Regions from separate parts of the Homo sapiens genome. Here region 2 is linked to region 1. The links come from fine-mapping of genetic effects on gene expression. Tissue or cell type: monocytes after LPS. Region 1 holds a variant in brackets; the other region holds the start of a gene. All regions are shown on one strand. Distances are from middle to middle.

Region 1 (8,185 bases):
ATTACCCAATTTGCTCCCGACATTAAATAAAACTCCAAAGATTAAATTCCAGCCCTCAAACCCCACAACAGCACTTAATTAACCTCGCTTTCAAGGTGTAAGATAATAGAGTAGAGGCAGCCAAGTAGCAACATATTTCTAGGTTGCAATTCCTTGCCTCCACTGTGAGACAAACCCCAGCCACATCTCCAGCACACAAGAACTCCAAACACCTGAACCACAGCTGCCAGGGGTTCCCCCAAAATCTCTTCCCCCGGGAGCTTGCTACAAGTGCTGGAAATCTGGCCACTGGGCCAAGGAATGCCCGCAGCCCAGAATTCCTCCTAAGCCATGTCCCATCTGTGCGGGACCCCACTGAAAACCAGACTGTTCAACTCACCTGGCAGCCACTTCCAGAGTCCCTGGAACTCTGGCCCAAGGCTCTCTGACTGACTCCTTCCCAGGTCTTCTCAGCTTAGCAGCTGAAGACTGATGCTGCCCGATCGCCTCAGAAGCCCTGTAGACCATCACAGATGCCGAGCTTTGGGTAACTCTCACAGTGGAGGGTAAGTCCACACCCTTCTTAATCAATACAGAGGCTACCGAATCCACATTACCTTCTTTTCAAGGGCCTGTTTCCTTTGCCTCCATAACTGTTGTGGGTATTGACAGCCAGGCTTCTAAACCTCTTAAAACTCCCCAATTCTGGTGCCAACTTAGACAATACTCTTTTAAGCACTCCTTTTAGTTATCCCCACCTGCCCAGTTCCCTTATTAGGTTGAGACATTTTAACTAAATTATCTGCTTCCCTGACTATTCCTCGACTACAGCTACATCTCATTGCCGCCGTTTCCTCCAGTTCAGAGCCTTCTTCACATCCTTCCCTTGTATCCCCTAACCTTAACCCACAAGTATAGGACACCTCCATTCCCTCCCTAGCAACCGATCACATGCCCTCACCATCCCATTAAAACCTAATCACCCTTACCCCGCTCAACGCCAATATCCCATCCCACAGTACGCTTTAAAAGGATTGAAGTCTGTTATCACTCACCCGCTACAGCATGGCCTTTTAAAGCCTATAAACTCTCCTTACAATTCCCCCATTTTACCTGTCCTAAAACCAGACAAGCCTTACAGGTTAGTTCAGGATCTACACATTATCAACCAAATTTTCTTGCCTATCTACCCCATGGTGCCAAAGCCATATACTCTCCTATCCTCAATACCTCCCTCCACAACCCATTATTCTGTTCTGGATCTCATGCTTTCTTTACTATTCCTTTGCACCCTTCATCCCAGCCTCTCTTCACTTTCACTTAGACTGACCCTGACACTCATCAGGCTCAGCAAATTACCTGGACTGTACTGCTGCAAGGCTTCACAGACAGCCCCCATTACTTCAGTCAAGCCCAAATTTCTTCCTCATCCATTACCTATCTCAGCATAATTCTTCGTGAAAACACACGTGCTCTCCCTGCTGATCACATCTGGCTAATCTCCAAAACCCCAATTCCTTCTACAAAACAACAACTCCTTTCCTTCCTAGGCATGGTTAGGTACTTCCGCCTTTGGATACTTAGTTTTACCATCCTGACTAAACCATTATATAAACTCACAAAAGCAAACCTAGTTGACCCCACAGATCCTAAATCCTTTCCCTACTCCTTTCCGTTCCTTAAAAACAGACCTAGAAGCTGCTCCCACACTGGCTTTCCATAACTCATCCCAACCCTTTTTCATCACACACAGCCAAAGTGCAGGGCTGTGCGGTTGGAGTTCTTACACAAAAGCCGGGACCACGCCCTGGAGCCTTTCTGTCCAAACAACTTGACCTTACTGTTTTAGCCTAGCCCTCATGTCTGCGTGCGGTGGTTGCCACTGCTTTAATACTTTTAGAGGCCCTCAAATTCACAAACTATGCTCAACTCACTCTCTACAGTTCTCATAACTTCCAAAATCTATTTTCTTCCTCCCACCTGACACATATACTTTCTGCTGCCTGGCTCCTTCAGCTATACTCACTCTTTGTTGAGTCTCCCACAATTACCATTGTCCCTGGCCCAGACTTCAATCTGGCCTCCCACATTATTCCGGATACCACACCTGAACCCCATGACTGTATCTCTCTGATCCACCTGACATTCACTCCATTTCCCCATATTTCCTTCTTTCCTGTTCCTCATCCTGATCACACCTGGTTTATTGATGGCAGTTCCACCAGGCTTAATCGCTGCCACTCACCAGCAAAGGTAGGCCATGCTATAGTATCTTCCACATCTGGCTACCACTCTGCCCCCCTCCACCACCTCTCAGCAAGCCAAACTCATTGCCTTAACTCGGGCCCTCACTCTTGCAAAGGTACTACATGTCAATATTTATACTGACTCTAAATATGCCTTCCATATCCTGCACCACCATGCTGTTATACGGGCTGAAAGAAGTTTTCTCACTACACAAGGGTCCTCCATCATTAACGCCTCTTTAATAAAAACTCTTCTCAAAACTGCTTTACTTCCAAAGGAAGCTGGAGTCATTGACAGCAAGGGCCATCAAAAGGCATCAGATCCCATCACTTAGGACAACACTTATGCTGATAAGGTAGCTAAAAAAGCAGCCATCAAAAGGCTGATCCCATTGCTCAGGACAATGCTTATGCTGATAAGGTAACTAAAAAAGCAGCTGGCGTTCCAACTTCTATCCCTCACGGCAGTTTTTCTCCTTCTCATCTGGCCACTCCCACCTACTCCCACTAAAACTTCCACCTATCAATCTCTCCCACCCAAGGCAAATGGTTCTTGGACCAAGGAAAATATCTCCTTCCAGCCTCACAGGCCCATTCTATTCTGTCATCATTTCATAACCTCTTCCATGTAGGTTACAAGCTGCTAGCCCATCTCTTAGAACCTCTCATTTCCTTTCCATCATGAGAATCTATCCTTAAGGAAATCACTTCTCAGTATTCCATCTGCTATTCTACTAATCCTCAGGGATTTCTCAGGACCCCTCCCTTCCCTACACATCAAGCTCAGGGATTTGCCCCTGTCCAGGACTGGCAAATTGACTTTACTCACATGCCCCAAGTCAGGAAACTAAAATACCTCTTGGTCTGGGTAGACACTTTCACTGGATGGGTAGAGGCCTTTCCTACATGGTCTGAAAAGGCCACCACGGTCATTTCTTCCCTTCTGTCAGACATAATTCCTCGGTTTGGCCTTCCCACCTCTATACAGTCCAATAACAGACTGGCCTTTATTAGTCAAATCACCCAAGCAGTTTCTCAGGCTCTTGGTATTCAGTGGAAACTTCATACCCCTTATGCCTCAATCTTCAGGAAAGGTAGAACACACTAATGGTCTTTTAGAAACACACCTCACTAAGCTCAGCCTCCAACTTAAAAAGGAGGACTCTGTCAAGGATACAGCCCAAAAACTTGCCAACCATGCAAGTAATTAGGCTGAACCCCCTTATGCACTCTCTAATTGGATGTTCTGGGCCCTCCCAATTCTTAGTCCTTTAATACCTGTTTTTCTCCTTCTCTTATTCGGACCTTGTGTCTTCTGTTTAGTCTCTCAATTCATACAAAACTGCATCCAGGCCATCACCAATCATTCTGTATGACAAATGCTCCTTTTAACAACCCCACAATATCGCCCCTTACCACACAATCTTCCTTCAGCTTAATCTCTCCCACTCTAGGTTCACACGTTGCCCCAATCCCGCTTGAAGCAGCCCTGAGAAACATCGCCCATTATCTCTCCATACGACCCCCCAAAATTTTCGCTGCCCCAACACTTTACCACTATTTCGTTTTATTTTTCTTATTAATATAAGAAGACAGGAATGTCAGGCCTCTGAGACCAAGCTAAGCCATCATATCTCCTGTGACCTGCACGTATACATCCAGATGGCCTGAAGTAACTGAAGAATCACAAAAGAAGTGAAAATTGCCAGTCCCTGCCTTAACTGATGACATTACCTTATGAAATTCCTTCTCCTGGCTCATCCTGGCTCAAAAGCTCCCCCACTGAGCACCTTGTGACCCCCACCGCTGCCTGCCAGAGAACAACCCCCTTTGACTATAATTTTCCACTACCCACCCAAATCTTATAAAATGTCCCCACCCCATCTCCCTTCACTGACTCTCTTTTCAGACTCAGCCTGCCTGCACCCAGGTGATTAAAAAGCTTTATTGCTCACACAAAGCCTGTTTGGTGGTCTCTTCACATGGACGCGAGTGAAAAATAATGCCCCAGAAGTAGGGCTCCTCTAGATTTCTCTGAACTAACAAACAAATCAATAATGATCAGGCTGGTTTGGATGATAAATATATTTCCTTCTCTGCTAATTTCATAGGAATGGCAAATCCACATATTGTTTGTAAGATAAAGCTCATGGATTATAATCTTGAATCCTAAATCCTGACGCTGATATGCTGTTTCCTCTGCTCCCTGATCCTATGAGGTAGCAGAATGGCACAATTTCCTAGGATCACTCTAGCTGCTATTGCTGAAATCATGCCTACACTTTTAAGGCTAACACAGAGCACATAGTCAGCCCATGTAATAATTCAGCCCACAAATGAATCTTACTTGGATGATATAGTGTAATTTCTTTCTTTTGTTTTTAGGGGGCAGGTGGTCCCCAAATCGAAATGGTCCTTTGTACTCCTTATTGTGTTTTTCTCAATGTAGGCAACTGCCTGGTCCCTGAAGCCATATGAATTGCACATCTCCTAGTGAAAT[G/A]TAGCAATTTTACTAGAAGACGTGTGATAGTATTGGCTAATAGGCCCACTTAGTGTTACTAATAATTCTTTGTCTACTAGGCACACCCATGTAGAGCTGGCTTGGTCATCCTGACTCATGGGCTCATATTTCAAGCTTACTCAGACAGTTAATTGTCAGAGTGTTTGATTCCAAAAACCACATGCTAAATTTCACTGAGTTATGGCACTTTGGTATTTCCTAAGTTATGGCATTTTGGTATTTTGCTGTTAAAATGCTGGAAACAATATGCCTGAAATTTTCCCCTAGTAGAATATTTAATTTTTTAATTTAGCATTTTTATATTTTAAGCTGGCCCAATAAACCCCAGAACAGAGTTTAAAATGTACCCAGAAGCTTGAGTTTACGAGGCAGAACAAATACCAATCAGACTTACAAGTCTTTCTCGCATGGAAAACTTGACCTACTCATGTTGAGTGAGTGTTCCACAGAAGAAGCTTTCCTTAGCCAAACATTCTGGGAAAACTCTCTGATAAGTATAGGTAAATAACCTTTTTTGTTGGTCTTTAGTATGCTCCAAGAAGAGCTACAGTACATGCTACTTCCCAAATACATTTGTCTAGTAAAGTCTTTTTGTACAAAATATAGTCTTGTACAAAATATAAAGTCTTTTGTACAAAATATCTGCTCACTAGTATTCGAAGGCACATGCTTTGAGAAAGGCTGATGGAAGCTGGTGAGCAGAATGCGTGACAAACACTTAATAAACACTTAATCCTGGTGCCTGAGCTACCCCTAAACAACAATCAGACCTTTTGAGCAAATCTCACAACTGCTATGAGTTACTCTTCATTCATTTAGAAAGTTAATAGGTTATATTCTCTTCCAGCTCAAATAGTTTCTGACTTGCCTCAGAGCTTCATAATATTATATTTGGTCACTTTCACTAAATGATTAATGGAGACAAAGAAAAAGAATACTACCGTATTAAACAGAATTCTAGGACTTTCCAGGGCAACCTGACTTTGCAGAACTACAATTAGTATTCCAAGGTAACATGGTAATAATTTCCTGAGACTCGTGGCATTTTCTCTAAGTGGTGTTTCAAGTCGTGAAGTGTTAAGATCACTAAAAAAGTCTGCTGTTGGCTGCTTTATTAATCCAAGATTTTTCAATGGAATCATCACCAGAACCCTTAGACAATCCCACTTGTAGTACAGAAACTGAGAGAGGCTAAAGAATTTCCTTATTCAGTTTCTTAACGTTGGTAGAAGTAGGTCTAAAGTTAGGACTCCCAGGGCTTCCAATTTATCTATATGGTTGGGTTTTCCTTCTTTACTGCAGTGAATGAGGATGGAAAAGGAGGTCACAGGTCCATCTCCTCTCCTTCTGAGTCTTCACTTCCTAGGGTTTATATCTAATGACTCATCTTCAGTATTAGCTTAAGTGGCCTGGCAACAACCAGAACACTGTTTTCAACAGCAATTTGTCTTTCAATGGCTCAGGAAGTGGGATCATTTTGTACAAGTCACAAATACAGCCCACCGAGCTCCCCAGTTTATGACTTTTCTTTTTAAACTTAAGATATAGGAAAAAAAATATTCACTTGTTTATCAACCTAAGGAAAAATAGGTTTTCTTGTTATGAATAAGAACAAAGAGTTGGCTGAAAATACCACTTCTAATTAGGTAATGAAGTTGTAATAAAGTACATTCAAAATGAAAATTAATTTCCATTAAGCAACTCACTCTCGGCACTGTTTGTTCTTATCACAGATACAAACATATGCTTTGACTTTTCTTCTGGATAATAATCTGTACTTGAAGAATGGAAAGTTTTCTGTTATATATTTGAGTCCAGAAAAGCTACCTAACTGTCCTACATGAGAAATGGCCAATGTTTGGTGGTGGATGGAAAGTATACATGAATTTATATCTAATTTTTCCAACAAGGTTTGGTGGAAATGAATATGTGAGTGTGTGTATGTGTGTGTGTGTGTGTGTGTGTGTGTGTGTGTCTACACAAAAGATGGAAACAACTCAAACTAGCACTTAAGCAAAAAAAAAAAAAAAAGTAATGTATTGGCTGGGAAATCTGAAATGTGTATCTGGTTTCAGTATGATAAGATCTGGGCCCCAGTTTGTGATTCCTGTACTCTCTTCTCCCTCTCTCTCCATATACCTCTGCTGGGTTTCAATCTTAGGCTCTCTCTCCGTCTATCACCAGCAAGATGTCTGCTCATAACCCCAAGACCACCTTGCCCTTATAACTCCTGGCCCTCAAAGAAGAGAGAGACTCTTTTTCTGCTTTCACAGATCGCATCGCAAGGCAGGGTTTTGGTGGGCCTGTTTGAGTCATGTGCTCATGGCTGAGCCAATTACCACAGTCAGAGTAATGGGCTACTCTGATTGGCCAGTCTTGGGTCATGTGTCCACCCTAGTGTCAGGGGAAAACAGGGCTCTTATCCTACCAACATGGAGGGAAGGACAGCTTTCCAAAGGAAGATAGGCTGGGAGCCACACACAAGAGACAGCTAGTCCAAAATACACAAACTTCCTGGCAATCACAGCACCAGAATGCTGAATATAACCTCCAAGTTCAGTTATTCTTCTCTTTCCTACACAAGGTCCTACTGAGGCACACAGCACATTTACAAACCTCTTCCCCCAACCGACTATTCCCCTTCTCTGAGGTATTTGCTAATTGGAGATGGAAACCCAGACACTCAAAAATGTAATAGAAACAGAAAGAGTAGTGAGACAAAGTTTCTAGAATTCAAAGAAAAGCAAAAAGCTTCTTTCTTTATTGGGAAATTGTGTTTTGCTTAGATTTCAGGAATTTTCTTTCTTTTTTTTTTTCTTTTTTCTTTTCTTGGCCTCTGGTTTGCAATAGTACAAAATAAGGATAAAGAAGAAAAATTAAACATAGCATTCTACTATCCTACTCAAATGTTCCCCAGCCTACTAGTCAACTGGTTGGAGAACTATAAAACATAGTTTATAGTCCATAGTTCATAGGTGGAGAACTATAAAACAAAGAGAAGAATAACTGAGCTTGGAGGTTACATGTTTGTTTATTTGCTACACACACACACACACACACACACACACCCTCACACATTCATTTCCACCAAACCTTGCTGGAAAACTTAGATGAGTGAGCACTGACTTCTGGAAAACATTTGCTGAAGACTCAGGTAGAATCTACGATTCACGATTTTTTTCTTTTTCTTTTTTTCCTTTCTTTTTTTTTTTTTTTTTTTGAGACAGAGTGTTGCTCTGTTGCCCAGGCTGGAGTGCAGTGGCACTGATCTCAGCTCACTGCAACCTCTGCCTCCTGGATTCAAGCAGTTCTGTCACCTCCGCCCCCGAGTAGCTGGGATTACAGGCACTGGCCACCACGCTCAGTTAATTTTTGTATTTTTAGTAAAGACAGGGTTTTGCCATGTTGGCCAGGCTGGTCTCAAACTCCTGACCTCAAG
Region 2 (8,185 bases), 47 kb after region 1:
GTTGCAGTGAGCTGAGATCATGCCACTGCACTCCAGCCTGGGTGACAAGAGTGACACTCTGTCTCAAAAAGAAAGGAAGGAAGGAAGGAGGGAAAAAGAAAGAAAGAGAAAGAAAGAAAGAAAGAAAGAAAGAAAGAAAGAAAGAAAGAAAGAAAGAAAGAAAGAAAGAAAAGAAAGAGGGAAAGAAAGAAAAAGGAAGGAAGGAAGGAAGGAAGGAAGGAAAGAAGAAAGAAAGAAAGAATTCATTCCCATCTTTGTGCTTTGGTGACTGAGATGGAAGTCATGTCTGTAAAACACATGGAACACAGGAGGAAGAACTGGTTGGGGGATGAAGATAATAAGTGGGTTTGACTTGTTAGGTGGGAGGTGATGGTGGGATATTAAGTGGAGGTGTCTGCCAGGCACTTGGAGATAGATGAGTGGTACCTTGGGATGGTGGCCAAGGCCATCTGTAGATATGGGCTTAGAATTCATCCAGAACTAAGCAAAGTTACAGACATTTAAGGTATGTCAGTTAGGCATCCTAGGTTGCTGGCAACAGAAACTGAATCTGGCTAACAAGTAGAAAAGTCTCACAGAAACAGAGTTCACTGTGGACCTCTGCTCAGACGGGACAGGGTCTATGGCAGCTCTGAGGTCCGGGTAGGAAGAACTCACAAATTCATCATTCATCAAGCTGAGATAAGTCAGCTGCAATTACTTTTTCATTCTTTTCAAGATTCAAAGAACTGGGAGGGAATCCAGTGAGCTTGGTCATATGCCCATCCCTTGGCTAGTGAAAGTAAGGATACCTTGATTTCCTTCCCAACAAAATGCTGCATAAAATAGAAGAGGTGTTTCCACTATCAAAAGGTGAGGAGGGGAACAAGTGTTGGTGGCCACAGATAAATCAATGTTCGTTCCACTGGGAGAGAGTGTGGAGAAAAGAGGAGGGAGCTGAGGACAGTCAACTGCATGGTGCCCACCTGTTGGAAGATTTGATGGAAAAAGGATAAAGGCAAGTTAAGGCATAGGAAGAGAGAAAATAGGCAAAGGAGTTTCCAAAAAATGGGCACACATATGAGAGTGAAATCCTGCCAAGGACTCAAAGGTGATAAAGAATGTTGAAAAACTACTGGGGTTGCCATTGGAAGCTATTGGTAACATTTGGGAGAGAAGGAGGGCCCGAGGAAGCGAGGAAGAAAAGGAGGGGAGCCCGATGATGGGGTAAGAAGATTGACCGAAGAGACCCATGGAAAAAGGGAGGCAGCATCTATTGTTTGGTGGTAAAAGGAAGGAGAGCAGCTGGGCTGTTGTTTGAAGGGGTCAGTATCACAACGACTCTCAGAACCTGGCTGTTACATCCTATTTGGTCACATATAAGTAGAAAATAATACCCAGCCCAGCACTTAGTAATGTCTTTTCTCTGAAGCTCTTGGTGAAAACTAGTGACGACAATAGCAAAGTGCAAACTGATGCTCTGGTTTAATCTGTTTCAGAAGTTACAGAAAGAGGAAATTGAATTTATTTGAAAGCCAACTTTAAAGGGAAATAAAAAGATAAATGTCTTTTCTAAGCTAAAAAAAAAAACCCCAAAGCAATGCAACAGTTTCAGAAACTAATTGTATAAGTGTACTGTTATTACCAGTCTCTTTTCCCCTGGTTGAAACAATCTTCCATAACAACATTTGCAACTATAATATTGCGTAACAAGCACTGTTACGGTGTAATGTCTTTTAAATAGGGGTTAGATAGGAGAGAAGTGAGTATCCATTATCTTATTATCATAACATCCGTCAGTCTTCCAGACAAAACACCATCATCCCACTGGGAGCTAAGGACGGTTTTTACTTAAACACAAGGTCATACTGTTTGGGTGCATGGGAGAGCAGTGGAGGTGGGGTGGGGGATTTTCATTTATTCCAAGGCACTCAACGCTGGACTTCTTCCAAGAGAGGAAACAAGACTAAATAGATCATTTGTTTTATTCTGTTTGGGCAGTTCTTGCATTTCTCCCAACTGTGGCTTATGGACACAAAGCCAAACTCAGAGCCTAGCTGGAGCTGGCTAAACTCCAGGTCAAAGGAATAAACAATTTGAAGCTCTATTTGCGGATTAAGGCAAGCCACACAATTGCAGGACAAAATGAAATTTCACTGTGAATGTGAAGTCACAAAGAAACAGCAGGTAGAAGTGTTAAATGATTTGGATTTCTCAAACAAAACCGAGGTAGAGGTAGGAAGGAAATGTGGATTGGAAGTACACATCTATGAGAAATGCATCTCAAAAAGGGTCAAATATTGGAGAATACTGGAGGAGGAACCTGCTGCTTGTGGGGACCAACTGAGGTAGGAACACAACATCTTTGGAACAGCCCCTCACGGTGGGTGTCAAAGAGCCTGGCCATTTGAGTGTCATGGAAAGTGTAGCTTGGGTCATTACTTCTGTCTCCTCTTGCTGGCATCAGGAAGGCTGGCCAACACCAGCCATGCACACTCAGTAACAAGTATAGTTGGTATTCCCAGCATATCCCACTGGCAGAATGGGTCTTTGTCTTCAATCACTTTCCTTTGGGAGACCTCATCGTTGGCCTCATCGCATGTCTAGCGAGAGAGAAGGGAACATTAGTGTCTAGGCTTACTTTAGCATATTAGTTAGCACTGCATCCACTGTGATTTCAGAATTGACAAGTCACGTACAGTATTGCTCAAAATGTTCCTTCGACACTACAGGAAAGAATGGGGAAGTAAATGTCAGTCATTAAAGTGTAACCCAAAGAGGTAAGTCCTAAGGACTTCTAACGTCTTTCATAGATGAAGAATTTGGACCCTATTTACACTCTAATTGGGAAAGCAAAAAAGGCTTGTTGTTGTTTTTTCTTGAAAAACATTGGCTCCTTCAAGACAAGAGACTGAAACTCTTCAAAATAGTAATTTTGTGCATTTCTCTCACTGGTTTGAGTAACTTTAGTAAAAATTTAAAGTTACACATAATTAACCAAAGTGTGTGAGATAGGAATCAACGTATCAATGTTAATATCCTGATTGTGATATTATACAATGGTTTTGCAAAATGTTACCATGAGGAAGACTTGGCAAAGTGTAAAAGAGACCTCTCTGAATCATTTCTTAACAACTGCATGCCAGCCTACAATTACCTCTATTACAAATTTTAATTTAGAAATGTGATTGAGACAGAAATGGATGCAGGGATTCTGGCACATTTTCATAATAATCTGGCTTCACCCACATTTCCCAGTTATTTCTCCAGTAGTTTCTTGAATGACTCCCTTCCATCTGGAAGAGGATACTCCCAGCTTTTCAAACACACTGAACGAGCTCATTCACACCTGTGGGCTTTCCCCCCTCCTTTGAATTGTTCCCAGCTCCAGCCCACACCGCCCTGACTGGACCAAGCACAATACTGTCACTGAAACAGTTCTTAGCATGTCTAAAAGTCACTTGGCTAGTAGTTCATCCACTCGTCAACAAAATTTATTGAGTAACTGCTATATGTGTGGTATGGCTCTAGGCACTAGGGATAGAGTGAGTTGGAAACAATATTGAAATTAGTTTCTCTTCCCTGGTCTCTGGGAGTATATTCCAATGAGAGAGAGTAGAAGAAAACTAGCAAGAAACAAGGTAAAAAAAAAATCAATTCATGATGAGGGTTATGAAGGAAGTCATAGGTTAGAGGGGATAAAGTGACTTTATCTCAAGTGGTCAGGGGAGGCTTCCTAGGGGAGAGGACATTTGAGTTGTGACCTCAAGTGTAAGGATGCAGACAACATAGAAGATCCTGGGACAAAAAGCATTTCAGGCACAGAGAATAAGAAAGTTACCCTGTAACTGAATATAAATATTTGGTATGACTGTAAAATAATTAAACAGATGCTCATTTTTGTAGACTGTTTGCTCCTTATTTTAGGACCAAGCCTCCCATAGCCTGTTTCCCTCTATGAGAGACTGAGAACACCCTTAGGCTGGTCCAGATTTTACACTTTTCAGAGCAACCCCTTCCCCAACACACACGTGCACACTCTGGCACGGCCACCTGCATGCCAAGGGGTGACTGCAGGCTGATCTTCCAAGTGGCTCTCATCAGTAGCTGTACCCTTAATCCAGGGCTGTGTATAGGGAGATTTACATTTCTTCCTCGCTGTTGGGGCCGTCTGCCTGCTAGCGACGATTCTACACTAACGGCTACATAAATTACTGTCATTAAAGTTGGGTCCTTGGGTCCCCAGAAACCTAACTAGAGGCAAAGGAGGAACCAACTAAGAGAGGTCCAGGTAACAGAGCCCGGAGCGGGACGGTCATTTGTTGCAGGCCCCTGGGGTATGTGCCTGTCTATCGCGCACCGGGTCCCAGCAGCAGTGGTTACCGGCTGAGAAGGGCTGGGTTCCCAGGACGCTGCGGGTACCTCATGCTATCACCATAGCCGGGAATCCAGTTTTCTGGTTCCCCTCGTCTGTATTTGCCTAAGGCGACTTGCCGCCGTTCCTCTGTCCCCTAGGCAGGGAGAAGTCAGCTCTAGGACACCCTGCAAAACGCCTCGAGGGGTTATCTGCCCCTTCCCGGCCGCGTCCTGGCACCGTTTCCCCATCACCCGGAGGACTGAGCGCTGTCTCAGGGCGCCCTCTGTCTCTTCCAGGGGGCAGCCAAGACGACATGCCCTGCGTCTCAGGGACGCGGTACGAGCCCTGGTATTCCCCCCGCCACCTCACACACCCCCATCCGGGAGACCCACGTGCAGCTGGGCCCGGGCTGGCGCCGCACCTCGGGGTCTGCGCGTCTCCCCGGCGCGTTCCGGGCGCAGCCCCACGACACGGACCCCTGGCGGGGCGGCATCCGAGAAGTCGCAGGCGGAGAGGGGGCGTCCTGGAGGCCGGGCGCGGGGACGCTGCGGCCCGCGGCCACACAAAGGAGGCGGCGGGAAGGCGGGGCAAGGCGGGCCGGGGGCGGGGGCGGCAGGAAGGGGCGGGGGCCCGCGCGGCGCCGCCGATAAAGCCCCCGCCGCCGCGGCAGCCAGCTTGCGCTGTGGGGCTGCCCGGGCTGCGCGGCGTCTGCAGGCGCCACCGCTGCCTCTTTCCGGCTGTGACCCTCCTCGCCGCCGCCGCTTGGCTGCGTCCTCCGACTCCCCGCGCCGCCGAGACCAGGCTCCCGCTCCGGTTGCGGCCGCACCGCCCTCCGCGGCCGCCCCCTGGGGATCCAGCGAGCGCGGTGAGTACAGGCTGCGCGGTGAGTCCCGGGCGCGGCCGGCGCTGCCCTCGGCGGGGGACGCTCCCCGGGGCTCCGCGCGCCACCGGCCCTGCTCCCTGACCTTGCGCCCGGCCGGGAAGCTGCGGGGCCAGCGGGACCCTGGGGCGCCGACGTCGGGGAGCAGAGAACTTTCTCAGCCTCCCGCGGGCCGCCTTGGCCGGGGCTGGGTGCTCGCCGGGCATCCCGGTCCCGCCCGCCGGGAGCCCCGAGCGGGACCCGGGCAGGGCAAGGCGGGGCCGCCCCGGGGTGGCGTCCAGTGATACCCGCAGCTGGGAGCACCGGGGCCGGCGTGGCTCCTGCCCGGCCATCCGAGCCGGCCCTGACCCTGAACCTGAGGTTTCCAGCTGCTCGCCGGCAACCCCTACCCCGGACTTAGGCTGCGCGCCGCCGGATGGGGAGAGACTGGCGCACTCTTACTTGTTACCTCTGCCTGGGCAGAGGGAGGTGACGCGCGGTGTGGGGAAAGCCTTTAACTTGGCCTCTGGCAGCCGATTTAACCCGAGCGAGCAGGTCTTTGCTATTTTCATCATCTGTAGAAACGGGAGTTGCGAGGCGGATGAGTGACTGCAGGTAAAATGAAAGTACGGTACTCAGAAATTCTGGAAGGAATTAGGCATTTAATGTGTCCACAAACTGAGCGGGGAAGGAAGGCTTCTATTACATAAGACAGCACTCCACCTTCAGGTATTATGGAAGATGCTGTTGAAGGTTTTAGTGTTTTAATGAACGAAACACATTCTTTGTGTGTGTGTCTCTGGAGAAATCTCGAATGCTGCTGTCTTGCTTTGGCTACTTTGCAGGGGACGTTCTTATATTTAGCATCAGCATAAAAAGGTGTTCGAAGGTGTGACTTCCTCTTTCAAGCCAAGAAGCCGTTTATTTGTCTGAATTGTTGTGGAACAATATATGTGATAATTGTGTACTTTGAAGATTTTATATCAAAACTTGAGCACAGATAACTGGAAGAATTGTCAACATTGCTAATTTGTATATCCTAAACCACACTTCGAAAATTGAAGACAGTTTCAACACTATCTGAAGGTCTAAATCAGTACTTATTTGCTATTTGCAGTATTTCAATAGAAAAATTTTTGGCTATGCAAATGAAGGTACTAACCTGAGTAATCTAAGGTTTCTTTTAACCCCCAAATTTTGATTCTTTGTTAAAATAATGTTTGAAAATATCGTACCATGCAGGGCAATTACTGAAGGTCATGAAAATGTCATCGTATTTTATTCTAAAAACAAAAATGAATCTATGCAGAAAATTTCCGTGTCCCATGAACTTCATATTAGTTTAATTTTAAAAGTACTGTCTCCAAAAAAAGCTAATTTTCACTTCCACACAAGGGTGATTAAATACCAGTCAGAGATTGTTTGAGGTGGTAGAGTTGGAAATGAGGTGGTGACCTGGCCACGTCCCTGGGTGCATCTCAGCCTTGCTGTCCTCTTCCAGCCAGTTCTTTTCCCATCGCATGGGGACTTTGGCTCTTGGGCTATTTCTCCTCCTCTAGACCTAAAGTCCATGTGGGGGACGCTCTAGATGCGCACTTCCTTGACTGTCTCAAATCCAGTGTCTTCCATGTACTCCAGCTACCAAGTCCTCTAAGTACCTCCAAGTCTTGCCCTCTCTTGAGATGCTCAACTTCTGAAAACTCTTAGTGCCTCCAACCCGCAAGCTCCTTCCTTCCGGGTTGCAAACCGGACTCCCACTGTAATCTTCAATGCAAGCGATCTCCAATGCTTTTCCTCTTGCGGGTTTGGCAGGTGACTTTGTAGCCCATTCTACCAGGAGAATAGAGGTCATAAGTATCTCCTCACGTCCTCCCCCATCTCCCCTGTACAGACTTTTCTGTGTTTACCCAGTCATCCAATAAATCTTCTTAAGCATCTACTGTGTCTGGGTACTTTGTTGGATACTCATAGGTGGTAAATAGAGCAGATCCTTGCTCGCTTGAAACTGTCATTCTTGTGGGAGAAAACCAACTAAAAGCAAACATAATATGTTGTAAAATGTATGATAAATGAATAAGGTAGAATTATAAAGAAAAATCAAGTTAGACTGAGAACTTAGAGAAATATAGAGAGATGGCCTCCTTGGGGCAGTGACTAATGTCTCCAGCTGTGTCCTGAATCCCAACTCCCAGTGCCTCTCTCTCCTTGTGAGTGTTACTCCCTTTTCTTACTTTTATCTTCAGTCTCTCCCTGTGAGCTTTTTTCTTTTTTAGTAGTATTTTAAGAATGCCTTAACCTCCCTTGTCCCTGCATCCTCAGCTCACCTGTAGTGACAACCACGTCTCTCCAGGCTTCTTAAACTGGTCTGCCCTTCCTGTTCAGCTCTTTGCAAGCTGGCCAGAGTCTCCTCAAAGTTCAAGGCCTGTGACTTCCTGAACAAGCAATCTTTTTTTTTTTTTTTTAATTTTTATTAATATGCTTTAAGCTCTGGGGTACATGTGCAGAACGTGCAGGTTTGTTACATAGGTATACACGTGCCATGGTGGTTTGCTGCACCCATCAACCCATCACATTAGGTATTTCTCCTAATGCTATCCCTCCCCTACCTCACTCCCCGCCCCCCACCACAGGCCCCAGTGTGTGATGTTTCCCTCCCTGTGTCCCTGTGTTCTCATCTGAACAAGCAATCTTATGGATACCCACTAGGTTTCTCCGTGGCATTTGATGAGGTTCTTCTATTCCTTTCTGATGGTTTTTTTTTTTTTTTCCATCCCTGGTTGCCACCTTCTGGTTTTCCTTATTCCTCCCTGGCATCTCTGCTACCTCTTGGGGTTACCCAGGGTTCGCTGTCATCCCTTTTGTGCTCTGTGTATTTGGGTGAACCATGTTCCCACAGCTTCGACTCTCACCAATATGAAGCGAGTCCCAGATTGGCATGTTAAGCTAGCTTGAGCATGCTCCTGTGTTCCAATCAGTTACCTGCAGTCTGG

Direction of the effects. Alleles are on the strand shown, and positions count from the first base shown. SD is a standard deviation of normalised expression in the study named.
In carriers of allele G in region 1, the expression in monocytes after LPS of the gene that starts at base 5,014 in region 2 tends to be higher than with A alone (large effect, 2.0 SD a copy in Quach 2016).

The links. PIP is the estimated chance that this variant, and not a neighbour inherited with it, causes the effect.
Region 2: it holds the start of SERPINE2, and the variant in region 1 is fine-mapped to the expression of SERPINE2 in monocytes after LPS (Quach 2016, PIP 0.95).

The regions. Positions count from the first base shown.
Region 1 is chr2:224,083,390-224,091,574 of GRCh38, reverse strand. No RefSeq gene overlaps it. Among named protein-coding and RNA genes, the nearest start is that of SERPINE2, 48 kb to the right of the region's middle. The variant G/A (reference allele first, on the strand shown) is at 4,726.
Region 2 is chr2:224,036,115-224,044,299 of GRCh38, reverse strand. SERPINE2 (serpin family E member 2) reads left to right here and starts at 5,014. Exons shown (of 9, transcript NM_001136528.2): 1 at 5,014-5,201. It overlaps LOC124907991 (a long non-coding RNA gene), which reads right to left and starts at 4,898. Exons shown (of 2, transcript XR_007088103.1): 1 at 4,758-4,898; 2 at 1,808-2,582. RefSeq lists a silencer at 4,554-4,848.